Regions from separate parts of the Homo sapiens genome. Here all the other regions are linked to region 3. Evidence: fine-mapped expression QTL. A gene starts in region 3. Each other region holds a variant in brackets. All regions are shown on one strand. Distances are between the middles of the regions.

What was found. PIP is the estimated chance that this variant, and not a neighbour inherited with it, causes the effect.
Region 1: its variant is the best candidate, but not a certain one, in a credible set for the expression of A2M-AS1 in tibial nerve (GTEx, PIP 0.54).
Region 2: its variant is the best candidate, but not a certain one, in a credible set for the expression of A2M-AS1 in testis (GTEx, PIP 0.57).

The regions. Positions count from the first base shown.
Region 1 is chr12:8,901,010-8,906,240 of GRCh38, forward strand. No RefSeq gene overlaps it. Among named protein-coding and RNA genes, the nearest start is that of PHC1, 11 kb to the right of the region's middle. RefSeq lists an enhancer at 3,967-4,623. The variant A/C (reference allele first, on the strand shown) is at 2,066.
Region 2 is chr12:9,108,300-9,113,530 of GRCh38, forward strand. It overlaps A2M (alpha-2-macroglobulin), which reads right to left. Exons shown (of 36, transcript NM_000014.6): 2 at 5,061-5,231; 3 at 4,078-4,237; 4 at 3,860-3,912; 5 at 2,015-2,035; 6 at 1,568-1,736; 7 at 1,022-1,106. It also overlaps a transcript of KLRG1 not described here. Among named protein-coding and RNA genes, the nearest start is that of A2M, 5.0 kb to the right of the region's middle. The variant A/G (reference allele first, on the strand shown) is at 2,336.
Region 3 is chr12:9,062,220-9,067,450 of GRCh38, forward strand. It overlaps A2M-AS1 (A2M antisense RNA 1), which reads left to right and starts at 2,958. Exons shown (of 2, transcript NR_137425.1): 1 at 2,958-3,009; 2 at 3,607-5,231. It overlaps LINC00612 (long intergenic non-protein coding RNA 612), which reads right to left and starts at 2,851. Exons shown (of 3, transcript NR_034140.1): 1 at 2,049-2,851. It also overlaps a transcript of KLRG1 not described here. RefSeq lists silencers at 2,187-2,236, 2,297-2,346.

The DNA.
Region 1 (5,231 bases), 160 kb before region 3:
GCAACTTTTCCATGTGCCTGGTGCAAGCTGTCAGTGGAACTACCATTCTGGGGTCTGGAGGACGGTGGCCCACTTCTCATAGCTCCATTAGGTGGTGTCCCAGTAAGGACTGTGTGGAGGCTCCAACCCCACATTTCCCTTCTGCACTGCCCTAGCAGAGGTTCTTCATGAGGGCCCCACCCCTGCAGCAAACTTTTGCCTGGGCATCCAGGCATTTCCATACATCTTCTGAAATCTAGGCGGAGGTTCCTAAACCTCAATTCTTTTTTTTTTTTTTTCGAGATGGAGAGTCGCTGTATCACCCAGGCTGGAGTGCAGTGGCGCGATCTCAGCTCACTGCAACCTCCGCCTCCCAGGTTCAAGCGATTCTTCTGTCTCAGCCTCCTGAGTAGCTGGGACTACAGGCATGTGCCACCACGCCCAGCTAATTTTTGTATTTGTAGTAGAGACAGGGTTTCACCATATTGGCCAGGCTGGTCTCGAACTCCTGACCTCATGATCTGCCTGCCTCGGCCTCCCAAAGCACTGGGATTACAGGCGTGAGCCACTGTGCCCGGCCCCCAAACCTCAATTCTTGACTTCTGTGCACCTGCAGGCTCAACACCACATGGAAGCTGCCAAGGCTTGGGGGTTCCACCCTCTGAAGCCACAGCCTGAGCTGTACGTTGGCCCCTTTCAGCCATGGCTGGAGTGGCTGGGACACAGTGCACCAAGTCCCTAGACTGCACACAGCATGGGGACCCTGCACCTGGCCCACGAAACCACTTTTTCCTCCTGGGCCTCTGGACCTGTGATGGGAGGGACTTCCGTGAAGGTCTCTGACATGGCCTGGAGACATTTTCCCCATGGTCTTGGGGATTAACATTAGGCTTCTTGCTACTTATGCAAGTTTCTGCAGCTGGCTTGGGTTTTTCTTTTCTATCACATAGTCAGGCTGCAAATTTTCCAAACTTTTATGCTCTGCTTCCCTTATAAAATTGAATGCCTTTAAGTGCACCCAAGTCACCTCTTGGATGCTTTGCTGTTTAGAAATTTCTTCTGTCAGATACCCTAAATCATCTCTCTGAAGTTCAAAATTCCACAGATCTCTAGGGCAGGGGCAAAATGCTGCCCATCTCTTTGCTAAAACATAACAAGAATCACCTTTGCTCCAGTTCCCAAAAAGTTCCTCATCTCCATCTGAGACGACTTCAGCATGGATTTTTTTTTTGTTTTTTGTTTTTTGAGATGGAGTTTCACTCTTGTTGCCCAGGCTGGAGTGAAATGGCACGATCTTGGCTCACCGCAACCTCCGCCTCCTGGATTCAAGTGATTCTCCTGCCTCAGCCTCCCAAGTAGCTGGGATTACAGGCATGTGCCACCACGCCCAGCTAATTTTGTATTTTTAGTAGAGACGGGGTTTCTTCATGTTGGTCAGGCTGGTCTTGAACTCCCGACCTCAGTGATCTGTCCACCTGGGCCTCCCGAAGTGCTGGGATTACAGGCGTGAGCCACTGCATCCGGCCTCAGCCTGGATTTTATTGCCTATATCGCTATCAGCATTTTGGGCAAAGCCGTTCAAGTCTCTAGGAAGTTCCAAACTTTCCCACATTTTCTTGTCTTCTCCTGAGCCCTTCAAACTGTTCCAATCTCTGCTTGTTACCCAGTTCCTAAGTCACTTCCAAATTTTCAGGTATCTTTTTCAGCAATGCCCCATTCTATTGGTATCAATTTACTGTATTAGTCTGTTTTCATGCTGCTGATAAACACATACCTGAGACTGGGAAGAAAAGGAAGTTTAATTGGACTTACAGTTTCACATGGCTGGGGAGGCCACAGAATCATGACCAGAGGCAAAAGGCACTCCTTATATGGCAGTGGAAGAGAAAATGAGGAAGAAGCAAAAGCGGAAACCCTTTATAAACCCATCAGATCTTGTGAGACTTATTCACTATCACGAGAATATCATGGGAAAGACGGGCCCCCGTGATTCAATTACTTCCCCTTGTGTCCCTCCCACAACAAGTGGGAATTCTGTTTTTTTTTTTTTGAAACGGAGTTTTGCTCTTGTTGCCCAGGCTGGAGC[A/C]ATCTTGGTTCACTGCAACCTCCACCTCCTGGGTTCAAGCAATTCCCCTTCCTCAGCCTCCCGAGTAGCTGGAATTACAGGCACCTGTCACCACGCCCTGCTAATTTTTTTTTTTTTTTTTTTTTTTTGGTATTTTTAGTAGAGATGGGGTTTCCCCATGTTGGCTGGGCTGGTCTCAAACTCCTGACCTCAGTTGATCCACCCACTTTGGCCTCCCAAAGTGTTGGGATTACAGGTTTGAGCCACCACGCCCAGCCCACACGTGGGAATTCTGGAAGATACAATGCAAGTTGAGATTTGGGTGGGGACACAGCTAAACCATCTCACTCACTCTGGTCCAGGCACACTCTGCTTGCTGTTCTAACACACCGGGCACACAATCCTCCACCTGGAGCAGATACACACATGCCCCCTCTCTTGTTCCCTTTACATCTCTTCATAAATGCCACTTTCTCTGTGAAGTCTTCCCTGACCACTCTGTTAAAATTCTAAGCCCCATCTTCCAATTCTCCTGACATTTTTCCATTAAAAAAATGTTCCCATAGCAGTTCTCATCATGCGAATTCCCATGGATTTTAGATTTTACTGATTTGTTTGTTTTCTCCCCCACTACAATGTGAACTCCATGAGGGTAAACATTTTGTCTGTTTTGTCTACTGATGGCCACCCATGACAGAAAAAAAAGTGACTGTCTTAGGGGAGGCCCTCAATGTATTTTTGTTGAATATTGAATAAATGGATGACTCAGATGTAGGGGGTGATCTAAAGAGAAGAGTCAAGAATGACTTCAACGTTTTTTGCTTGGGCAATTGGGATTGCCACTTTCCAAATCAGGGAAGTCTAAGGGAGGAGCAGGTTTGCTGAAGGTGTGATGACTGGCTATCTCCAGTGTCGTCAAGAAAAAGAACTGAGGCAGAGTGCACTGATGGGGTGATCCATTTTCTCGGACTCTGGCAACTCTAACAGTTTCCTTAGTCAGATTTACAGTTGCCACAGATATCCTCTGAAAGTTGGAAAAGGAAGAGGTTACCAGGTGTTCTTTCAGTTCAATACTGGGCTTGTGTCTTTGATTGATTCCCATCAATTCAGTCACTTCACAAGTCAGAAGAGGCAGAGATTAACTCATAGCTGCAACTGGCTGCTGTCTGGTGGTGGAAAGGATAATCCTGAAGGTTATGTTTCATGGTCCTATAGGACATTAACCACTTTTGTATCCAATACAGCAATCTCACTAACATTCCTTTGTTAAATTGCCTAGAAACACCCATGCTTCTCAAACGCACTTTGAACTGATTTTGATATCTTATAGATTCTTTCATTAATTAATAAGTTGTATAAAATCTTTGACGTGTTCGTTTTATATTTGCATGAGTTATGATTCTAGCTTTTTGAAAATTATATTTTAATATCACTTTTACAGAACTAAAATGCTGCCACTCAAAATGATACCTGAGTACTTACCCATTGATTAGTCCAACCCTGTGACAACATGAATTTCCCTGTTGCCAGCGCACTAATACAGTTGGCAACCGGCTAAACTTCAGGCAGCAGAGAACGTTCAGCTGCTTGCTGCTTTTTGAAAAATAAATAAAGGGCTTCAGATTATGCCACCCCAAAATATGTTGTTTTGGCATATTCATTTGAGCTGAAGACACTGGAGAAACAGCTGATGCAGGAAAAGCTCTCTGATTCTCCCTTTCTACCTGAAAGCAGGTCATACAATTTTCCATGAGAAACATGCCCTCTGTGTACAAGGAAGAGAACATTCTTATCACCATAGAAAGGGAACTGACACTGAAATAGATCTATGCAAATAGTCTTACTAAAATAACCTTTAACTTCCACTGGTTCCCCCTTTATATTTCCTAGTCACTGTCCCACAATTTACTGCCATTACACCAAGCCCCTTTGTTTTGTCACATCCCCATAATTTATAATTCTTTGTGTAAAAAGGTATACAGTAGTTCCTTGGTATCCACAGGGTATTGGTTCTAGTTGCCACCCCCTGCATATACAAAAATCTGAGGATGTTCTTATATAAAATGACATAGTATTTGCATACAAGTTATGCACATCTTCCTGTATACATTTTTTTTATCTTATTTTTTTTTGAGAGAGGGTCTTGCTGTCACCCAGGCTGGGTTGCAGTGGAGTGATCTTGGCTCACTGCAACTTCTGTTTCCTGGGTTCCCGTGATTCTTGTGCCTCAGCCTGTAGCTGGGATTGCAGGCGTGCATTATCACACCTGGCTAATTTTTGTATTTTTAGTAGAGGCGGGGTTTCACCAGTTGGCTAGGCTGGTCTTGAACTCCTGGCCTTAAGCAATCCACCTGCCTTGGCCTCCCAAAGTGCTGGGATTATAGGCATGAGTCACTGCACCTGGCCCTCCTGTATACTTCAAATCATCTCTAGATCACTTATACCTAATATAATGTAAATGCTGTGTAAGTTGTTGTTATAGTGAATTGGTTTTTTATAAATTTGTATTTTTTTCTTTCTTTCTTTCTTTCTTTTTTTTTTTTTTGAGACGGAGTTTCACTCTTGTTGCCCAGGCTGCAGTGCAATGGCACGATCTCACTCACCGCAACCTCTGCCTCACCGCAACCTCTGCCTCCCAGGTTCAAGCAATTGCCTCTTTGGGTCTTTTCTTTTTTTCTTGAGACAGTCTCTCTCCGTCATCCAGGCTGGAATGCAGTGGCGCTGTTAACGGTGGAAGGTATGCGGACAATTCTGAAGGCATTTCTATTTTTATTCTGCCAATAATTTTAAAGCTAGCTTGTTAAGTTACACTTTAAGTCACGTGAACTTGAAAATTGCTTAGACTTATTTACTTGATTTATGAGCGCACTTTTACTTATAAGCCAATTTGGTAGACACAACATATAACAGTAGGTGTACAAACAAATAAACACATCTAGACATGTATACACATACATCAACGAAGATCCAATACCTTGGAACCTTAGCCACGAGATAGCAATACAAGCTTGCGGTTTTACTTCAACCTAATAGAAAATACAAGGACGGCTCTGAACCAAAATTTCAGGTAAAGCAGCCTCCATGGCAGTTCGATATTGAAGGGCTAAAGCCTCCCAGCCTCCCTAGACTTCAAGGAGCACCGGGGCCAAACAGTACCAAAGGAGGGTGTCACATGTTAACCAGGCCC
Region 2 (5,231 bases), 46 kb after region 3:
TATTTTTTAGTAGAGACGGGGTTTCACCATGTTAGCCAGGATGGTCTTGATCTCCTGACCTCGTGATCTGCCCACCTCAGCCTCCCAAAGTGCTGGGATTACAGGCGTGAGCCACCACGCCGGGCCTGTTTACTTTTTTACAAAAGTGGGATTGTGTCGTAAATATGTCATAGACAATTGCTGGGTTTCCAAGTGCATTTGTCTCCTTTCCTATTTGAGAATGTCCTCTGTATGTCTATTTGCAAGATCACACCAGTTATGAGGAACCAGGAACTTGGCCATCACTGTGAGACAGAACTGGAGCAGGGGCCTAGCTGAATAGTAGGTGTATTACATGTGTGATCTTTGGACAGGACTATACCTGCTCTTCCTGCTACTGCTACTGTGTGCCACCATGGATGGGAACATAAGATCCAGGAAACAAGACTTTTCAAGGTTGGAACAGACTGTCTTGAGAAATCACGTTCAGTCTCTTCGTAAAAATGTCAGTGCAGACAGGTATGTAGACCCGCCTTAGGTGGACTAGTGAGTTAGATGAGATTTCAGTTGTATGCCTATCTCTACAAATTCTGAATCTAAGTGATTTTTCCAGTAAGCATGCAAGGTCAGGTAAATGATCTGTTGATGATTGAATTTCCCCTATAGCCATGTGTTAATTATCTCCCTAATATACGTTTGGTTATTTTTGGTTAAGGCAGAACCAATACCCTTCAACACTATCCACCCTTCCCATTTTGTGTGTGTGTGTGTGTGCAGTTTTGTCACTTTCAGAATCAATCCTATTAGCATAACCTCTCTAGAAACAGTTTCTTACCTCATGATAGAATAATACTGATAAGAACGTGAAAGAAAATAAAAATAGAAAAGCAACAGGAGAATAACATTCTACAGATGAGGATGCTGTCAAAGCACTTAAAATTTTTGTGTTGCCACTGCTCCCGGAGAGAGTAGTTAAAATATCCCAAATGGTGAGTCTCTTTTAAATAATCCCCCACAAAAGATTTTTAAAAAATGAACTCACAGGCCACACACTGATACATTCATCTCTTCTTCCAAGATGGTGATTATCTTTGGCACTGTTACTTGTACTTCAAACTTGGGAAGAACTGTTGATTGGTGATAAAGAAGGTTGGTGATTGGTTTTCAACTTTGGGGGAATTCCTATTTTCAGGTTCCCTGTAACAGTTCCCTAATAATATTTTAGGGCTCTGAAAAGGTAGCTCTGCTCTCCAATCTATTCTTATCTATCCTCCTCTCAAATGAAGATTTCAGTTGAGGGACTATGAGAGATCACTGTGTGCTTAATTAATTATGGAAAACTCCATTAAAACAAGAATGTTTTAATTTTGGGGGTTGGTATTAAATATTGCTACAGAAAATAACGAAGCTATGTGAAGTCCTATTCACAGATCACTGATGTCCTCATTGGACTTAGGTGTAATTAATTCTACTCCAAGCCCAATGTCACCCATGGGAAATGGAAAGACTCCAAATGAACTTAAATTCCAGGACCTAAGAGTTTAAATATGAAGAAAAATAATGCTTGATGACTTTTCATGATCCATACCAAATTCCTCCACGGTGAAAGGGTGCTCTGTCCTTCCACCTGATTTCTTCTGTACCACCACCTTGTAGGAGCCCTGGAAGGGCTCTGATGAGAGGGGAAAAGAAAATTGCTTGAGGCCACCCTCTAACTGGAAACTCTGCCATTGTGCGATGCGATTTCCTTTGGGATCCTATATGAGTAAATTAATTATAACTTACAAAAGCACCTGGAGCATTGGAGCTAATAAAAGATATCTATGGAAACCCTAAGTTATCTACAAAAAGGTCAAATGGGGTAGTAGTAAAGGGTGAGTAGAGGAGATGAGTTATAGCCATCTAGCTCTATGGGAGTTTGAAGGCTTCTCCTTTAATGACAAGTTTCTGAGATATTGTAAAAACCTCTGAAATAAGAACATTTTCCCTATATGTATTGCTTTCCTTTTAATATGGAATGTTTCATGTTGCTTACCTGAATGTATACTAGTGGAATCTGAAAGACAAAAGAAAAAAGAAGTTTATAATTATTTTCAAATATTCTTAAATCTCATTTATAAGCAAAGCAGCTAGTATTTGCTAGCATAACAGGGTGAGTATAGTAAAAAATAATTTAATTGTACATTTAAAAATAACTAAAAGTATAATTGGATTTGTTCGTAACACAAAGAATAAATGTTTGAGGGGATGGGTACTCCATTTATTGATACAGGCATGCAATGCATGATAATAATCATTATCCATGATTGGATAATGATATGGATAATGATAATGATTATCATCCATAATCATTATC[A/G]TGCACTGCATGCCTGTATCAAAATATCTCATGTAACCCATAAATATATATACCTGCTATGTTTCCACAAAAATTAAAAACAATAAAAAGTTTAAAAAATCTAAATTAGTTTCATATAGAATAATTCCCTCTATAGTGAAATACAGAAATATTCCAGATTAAATTTTATAGAACTTTTCATTAATCTATTTTAAGCAATTAATAAATAATGTTAAGAACTTACTAGGCCTTCAGCAACAAATATACATGTAAAGTGCCATTTACTAAAAATGGATTAACATGTCTTAAGTGCTTATAGCATCCTAGTGAAGATCAATCCTTTGCTATGCAATTTTACAGGTTGAGAAATAAACACTTATGTAACTATAAGTAAATATGTTCAGATGTAATCATTAAGATGGGTCATAGAATTCTTACGTAGTTCTAAGAATGAGGAGGAATGGACATATTTCATTAATAAATTTAGTTTAATAAATATTACTTTTAAAAATGAATAAACATTGATAAGAAGCTACTATGAATGTTTATTCATTTTTAAAAACTAATCTTTATTAAGTACCTTCTCATGCGCTGTGTATCATTCTAGGTATTGAGAATATAACCACGCACAAAAGAACAATAAACCATGTTTTAATGGAGCTTATGTTATAATAGAAATAGGCAGATTTTTAAAAATCAATACGTATAGAATGGTGGTAAGTGCAAATAGAAAAACAAAGCCAAGTTAGGCTGACAGAGTGATGGGTGTGGTGCCTCATTTTAGACAGAGGAGTGAAAGTAGAAGCTGGGAGACCACTTTGAAGGTTATTGTAATGATCTTATTTAGAGATGACATTGACTAGGACTAGCTTGCAGCAGTAGTTCAGATGATAAGAAATAGTCTGAATATATTTTAAGCCAACATGATTTTCCAGTGAAGTGGATGTGGGTATGAGAGAAAGAGAAACAAGAACTAGGCCATAATCTTTTGTCTTTGGAGCTAGAAGAGAAGAGTTGCCTCTTTTTGAGATAAGAAAATGTGAAGAAGTTAATTTGGGAGAGAAAAATGAAGACTTTGGGTTGATGTCTGCATTACAATAGAAAGAACTGTTTCTTATCACAGATACCAAGAGTTAGTCTTGAGGAACAAATTAATTACCCTGACTTTCCTTTATAGTGAAGATTTTGGTAGATGTGTATAGAAAAAATCTAAATCTTTAAAATGTTTTTTGAGCTTAGGTTCTTTGAGGATTTTTCTGTGTCTGCTATTGAATGTATCTTTCTAATTGTCCTAATTAAGAACCATCCGAAAAGTAAATTTAATTGTGTGACAACTGACTGAGTACCAGCACCAAGACAGAAAGAATTACCTACTTTCTTTACCTGGAATGATGTTTTAGATTAGGATCTTGTGCTGTTGTAATGCCAGAAGTTACTGTTAATGATACCAGATTCTTCCTCTCCCTGGTCTTCCCTCAGCACAAAAAACAGGTTCCCAGCCTGTTTATACAGACAATCATTTTATGTAGATAATAGAAAACTCACCAACTCATTCAGGGGGTGAAAGTTTTCATCCATGGAGACAACACGAAATTTCACTGAAACAGAAATATTTTTCATGAGCCCCCAAACCCAAAGTAGGCCTGTAGGCTGGTAAGACAAGCTATTAAGGAACCAAGATTATAGGAACTTTGCCTGGGGAACATCCAGGGGAAGAAGATCTTTCCTTTTTGAAGTTGTCCTGTCTGTAGGCTTCTTCATACCTGTCTGCCCTGGTTTGTAGATTGATTTGTCTGTCTGGACAAAGACCAGACTGTCCTCGTTCTTAACCATCACTGTGGTCCGCTTCTTAAATTCTTGGGTTGGTCCTTTCACTTGGACAGTGAGGAACATTACCTCCTCATTGGATGAAGACTTTGGGACCTGAAATACAGGACCGATCCTGAAACCCCATTCAGCACCCGCAGGTCTCCTCCCCTATTTGCTGTTGCACTCTTCCCTGGAGATCTTGCCCTTCTTACTTAACTTCACTCCCTTGTTCTCAGCAGGGAAAGTTGGCATGGACAGGAATCACTTCTGCCATTTTACAAATGGGGAGACAGGACACAAGGTGGAGGAAAATAAATCAGTAAGAGAGGTTGTAAGTGAGATTCACACCTTCATACAGCTCACAGAAACAGTCTTGATTCAATTATACGCTGAGCTTTACCAGGCTGATATTACATGCTAAAAGGGCATGGTCGAAGCATGTTTTACAGGCTATGGAAAAAAACCCCGTATTTTACTGACACTAGGCTGTAAGCATCTCACATGTGGACAACTCTGAAGAGATATTACACCTTTGCTCAGGGTAATTTCTACAATTTTTACTCTTAGAAGTAGTGTGGAGTGATGTGTTCCTGTCAGTCCACCACGGGTGGCTCATGTTGAGCCTTGGTCTAGTTTGCTTTATTAATATTTTTTCCATCTTAATTTTAAGAAGTCACATTTTCTTTTTTTTTTTTTCCTTTCTGGCTAATAGGGTTTCTATGTGATTATTAAGCTGACTTTTAGTTTGCCTGTAAATATTTGTCTCCCATGGCTGGAGAGTCATGCATTGCTCCTTAATTTCTATACTTAGTTTGCTACATTTGGATTCCTTCCTGCAGTTCTTACCAACCTCCCAAAGCCTCATCTGACAGAATACTAGATCCCTATGACCCTGACTAAAAGAACCAAGTATATTAAGTCAAACAGCCACACTCACAGCGAAGGCGACACAGTGGAGTACGTCATTCTCCGCCTCCAGGTCAGTGAAGAGGCTCCTGTTTCCCCTGACAGACTCCAAGGAAGCACTTACAGTCACTGTCTCATTCAGGTAGCTCAGAAGGACACAGCCCTTCTCAGTGGTCTCAGTGTGGAGCAGGGAGGGGACCAG
Region 3 (5,231 bases):
CTGACACAATAGATGGATAATGTATCTGATATATTTATATATTGTATAAAAAATCACCTGACACAATAGATGGATAATATATCTGATATATTTGTATATTGTATAAAAAATCACCTGACACAATAGATGGATAATATATCTGATATATTTATATATTGTATAAAAAATCACCTGACACAATAGATGGATAATGTATCTGATATATTTATATATTGTATAAAAAATCACCTGACACAATAGATGGATAATATATCTGATATATTTATATATTGTATAAAGAATCACCTGACACAATAGATGGATAATATATCTGATATGTTTATATCAGATATATTATACATTTATATATTATACATATACATTTATATATATACATAATAAATACATTGTATTATACATATATGTATATATTATACATATACATTTATATGTATAATATAGTTGACATATTTATATATTTATATCGGATATATTGTACATTTATAATATATTTATTATATTTTATATTATAGTATATTATCATTTATAATATATTGTTATATGTTATATGATATATATTTATAGCAGACATAGTAAATATCTATTGTGTTAGGTGATTTTTTATACAATATATAAATATATCAGATATATTATACATTTAAACAGTTAAACACCTAAACAGCCCAATTTTATGTGGATCAGTACTACTAACGGCTTAGGGTAAAATGACAGCTACAGCATAACTAGAATGTTAAAGTGGCATGTCTCAGACAACGTGGATGGACATAAAGTATTTGAGAGAATATTGCATAATAGAAAAAAACATTGTAAAGACTAAAATACTAAATAAGACCTTTTTTTCCCGAGCAATAATTTGCCCAGGCTGGTCTCAAACTCTTGGCCTCAAATGATCCTCCTGCCTTGGCCTCCTAAAGCATTGGGATTATAGGCATGAACCACTGCTCCTGGCCAGAATTCTTGATTAAACAATAGGGTCTAAATAAATTTAAACCCCTTTTATTCTTTTTATTCTTACAGGGTAGACTCAAATATTCTATTTCTTTCCAACTTTATATTCTTGTCATAACAACCCAGTATTCTCTGAGGCAAATGGATGCTTATGACCAACTGGCCTGAAATGGGGGAATATAGGGTTAGTGGTGAGTCACATATAAGAAAATGCAAGAGAATAGCAGTGTATCATATTTCAAAATAAAATACAAACTATACATAAAACTGACCCCAACAAGTATCCATTTCATTTCCTGTCGTGTATCTATATGCTTTCCTGGAAAGAATAAACTTCAGTTCACAAAATCAGATGTAGAAGATACATCACTTTTAAAAATTCTACGTAATTTTAATTCCAAGATTCCCATGCCACCAGGCTGGTGGGAAATCCAGTTTAAGTTGTAATTAGGCCTTTTCTCCAGTATTACATATGAATTTGAGTGTAATACCCCAAAACTTGAGAAGGCCATTGTATCTCCAGTCCACTGGGGCAATGAATAGCTTGAGCACCTGATCATTATAATGACCCAGATGTGTATCTTTTTCTTTTACTCTGCGGTGAGTTTTTCTAAGGGAGGAATCCTATTTTGTTTAATTTTGTATTATAGCATGGGATATTGTGCCTGGCAGATAGTAGGCAATCAGTTAGTATTTCAGGAATAAACACTCTTGGTCAGTGATACAGCTAATGATTTGCAACAAGCATATCCTTAAAGTACCTTTTCAGTAACGATTTCCATATGAACAAAGAAAAAAACTAGAACCAAGAGGTAAAATTATAATCCTGTTGTCTTGTTCCCATAGCCATACTCTGATTTCTTTTATGTTCTGTGCCCTGGCTTGATACTTAATTTGACAGCTAATTATAATGTTTATTAAGCTCTGAAATATACTTTCTCCTGGCCTTTTTGTCTGAAGTTGTTTGAGGTGTCACCATGGTTGGAAGTTAAGAGCATGGAAGCTAGACTTCTTGGTCTTGAATTCTAGCTTTGTCACTAACTTAGTAACTTTGGGCAAATTACATGTCTCTGCTTCAATTTCATTTGTTAAGGTAGTACCTATTTCACAAGGCTGATGGTGGCAGCAGTGGGGCGTCCAGAGCTGCCGCTGCCATCACGCCAGCTGCAGCAGGGAGGGGCGGGCAGCGGCGGCGGAGCAGCTGCGGGAGCCGCAGTGGCTGCTGTGGGACATCTGTGCCTCGCGTCCCCTGTGCCTTGAGACCCCAAAGCAGCCGACTGCGCCGCCACCATCCTCGCGTTGCCGGGTGGGGCGACGTGCTCCCCGGCCAGGAGCCTCCACCGCTCCGGACCCTGGCCCTATGTCGCCGCTCTCGCCCGCCGCCGCCGCGGAGTGGGAGTGGGGAGGAGGGGAACAGTCCTTGGAGCCGGCCCCGGGAGTACTCCCGGAGCCTGCCGCCCTGGAAGCCGCCACGATGGACCGGGCTGAGTCGCCCGCCGGAGGGGAAGCAGTGTAGTCGGGCACGGAGGGGCAGGCAGAGAGGGGCCCCAAGGCGGAGCTGGGTCCGGGGCGGAGCGGTGTTCGCACACAAAGCGCTGGGGCTGGACCCAGGGTTCGGGGCCAAGGCGAGAAGTGGGAGCGGGGCCCGCTTTGGGGACCCGGACAGCGGTGTGGCCACCGCGCACACCTCCGACAGCGCCGCATTCCTGGGCCTTGGGAGGAGGCTCTGAGTAGGGCCGCCTGGGGCGCGTCTTCAGGGTCCTCCCGGCACTGGGGTGACCGCCGAGCTAGACGCGCCTGAGGGCTGAGCCCCAGGGCTCGTGATCTGCTCCCGGAGGCGCCCCCCAGGCAGGGCCGTGAGCCGGGCGAGGGAGAGTCCTGGGCTGCCCCTGAGCCCCGGGGCCACGGGAAGAACTTGCAGCGACGTCATCCCTGCCCCGGACACAGTCCCGGGCCCAGGGAGGACCTGGAACATTCCCTTCCTCCCCCCCCCCCCCCCCGCCCCCGCCCATCAGCCCAGCCTGCAAGGAGGCGCCACCGGACCTGCACACTCAGGAGCAGGTGAGCCAGGGACAAGCAGGAGCCCCGCCCCTTCCGAACTGGTGGAGCAGGAGCTCCCAGGGTGCAGCTGCAGCCACCTTGCCGCGGCTGTGGACATTTTCTGTGCTCTCAGAGGCCCAGCAAAGTCCCCTGCCCACTGCAGGCTCCAGGGTGCCTACTCCGGCTGCCTGGCTTCTCTCCACTGTTAGCACCCACTCTGAACTCAGAGCAAGGTCGGGCCGAGCCTGGGTACTGTCACAGCCTGGCCGAGCGTGCACACGCTCAGGACAGTGCTGATACGCCAGCCCCCTGCCGTCTCGGCCCCCTTTGGAACTTGGGCACCAACAAGCGTGGGAGGGAGGCTGAGAGGGGTCTGAAGACAGCTGGACACTGACTTGCAGGCGCTCCTTGGCATGAACAGCCTGGGAGCAGGAGGCAGACAGGTTCCTGGGTGGAAGGGGATGGGTCCCCAGTGAAGTCCCACCCTCAAGCTGGTGAGGGCTTGAAGCCTGCAGACCAGAGAGGTAACTTGTGGTGCTGCTCCCTGGGCCCACTCATGGCTGCCCATGGACCAATCAGCATGCATTTCCTCCCTCTGAGGCTCATAAAATCCCCCAGACTCAGCTAGATTGGAAGAGAGGATGGGAAGACAATGGATGACCTACCTGTGGAGAGAAACTACCCATTCCAGAACCTCCTCTCTGCTGAAAGCTGAACACTCAATGGGAAGACCTGTTTGCAGAGAGGAGCCAGCCACTCCAGGGTCTCCGTTCTGCTAGAAGCTGAACACTCGTTGGGACACCCTTGCTGTGGAAAGGACATCCTTACTGTGGAAATGAGCTACTAACTGCAGGTCTCCTTCCTCTTCATCTTCCTTATCCTTCTGTTCCATTGCTCAGTAATGCTCCTCTTCATCTGTCTCATTCTCCACTTGTCTGCTTGATGCAGGAGCTGAGGAGCTGCACAGCAAGGTTAAAAGAGCTGTAACACAAACAGGGCTGCAACATGCCCCTTGCTCCCCACAGGGAGAGAAGAGCTCTGGCCCTCGGAGAAGCCCAGACCTGGGAGCTCCTTGAGCCCGGGCTGTGACTCCCTCTTTGGGGCCCTGGTTGGCGTCACTGCATTCGCCAGTGCCACTGTTGGAAGCTGCTTGTGATGCGCCTGGTCCAGGGGGAAGCTGTTTGTTGTGTGCCTGGTCCAGCCACCTCATGGAGAGCCTGTGCTGGCACCTGGAGCTGCCCAACCTGGGCAGCAGCTTGTGTGTGTGACTGCACAGTGGCCACGCTTGCTCACACACCCCTAGCACACCCCTCTGCTCCACCCGTCTCAATCTCCCTTGGATCCGGGATCCAGGTTGGTAGCAAGTGCGAGTGGGCAGAAGCAGCCCAGTGGGCCCAGAGCAAAACTCAGGCAAAGGTGCCACTAGACTGGCCAGGAAAGCGACACCCTAAAGATCCCATAATGCTGATATGTTAATTCTATTCTATAAGCACCACACAGAAGTGATAGCTTTTATTTCTTATTTTGTCTAGCCTGGAGACAGAGCTAAGGATTCCTTGAACTGCAAAGTCTTTTCCAGTTCTTAGTTTATACAATCCATACTCACCTTCTGCCTAACTAAGCATTGTCATTTTTGTGCCAAATGAAGAGTAGGACTCCTACGATTGTCCTCAGACTCTCTTGGCTCAATCCTCCTGCTTTAACCTTTCCTACTTCAAAAACTCCTGAAGTTTTGCTTCCCCTTCTATAGAATGGAAATATATGTCGCAATACTTACTGCAAAGAAAATTATATATTTTAAAAATAGACTAAAGAGATGTTGTGAGACATCAGACATCAATCAGATGTTGTGAGAACTGATTTCTGCATCAGAATATCTCCTTGACTTTACAGCTATCCTTTAATCCTGGCTCAAAGTTCCAGAAGAAAGATGATCCAATATAATACTCCTATTTGGACTTTGAGTCATACACATTCCTTCTTCTGAGAAAACGTGCTTCTGCATGAATCCTCCCTTCATTATTTTCAGCTCATCTATTATTGAATCTGAAACCCCAGGTTAACTGACTGATCACTCTCATCAGTGGCAGATTTTGGTGTAACATAGGACACATCACTCCCAATTCAGGTCAAGTCCCAATTATCTTGCCTCTCAATATGACATGTTCAATGTTGTATTTCATTCTACTTCATTTTAATGTAAAAAGTCTTTTCTGGTGAAGTCAGTCTTTTATTTTCTCATA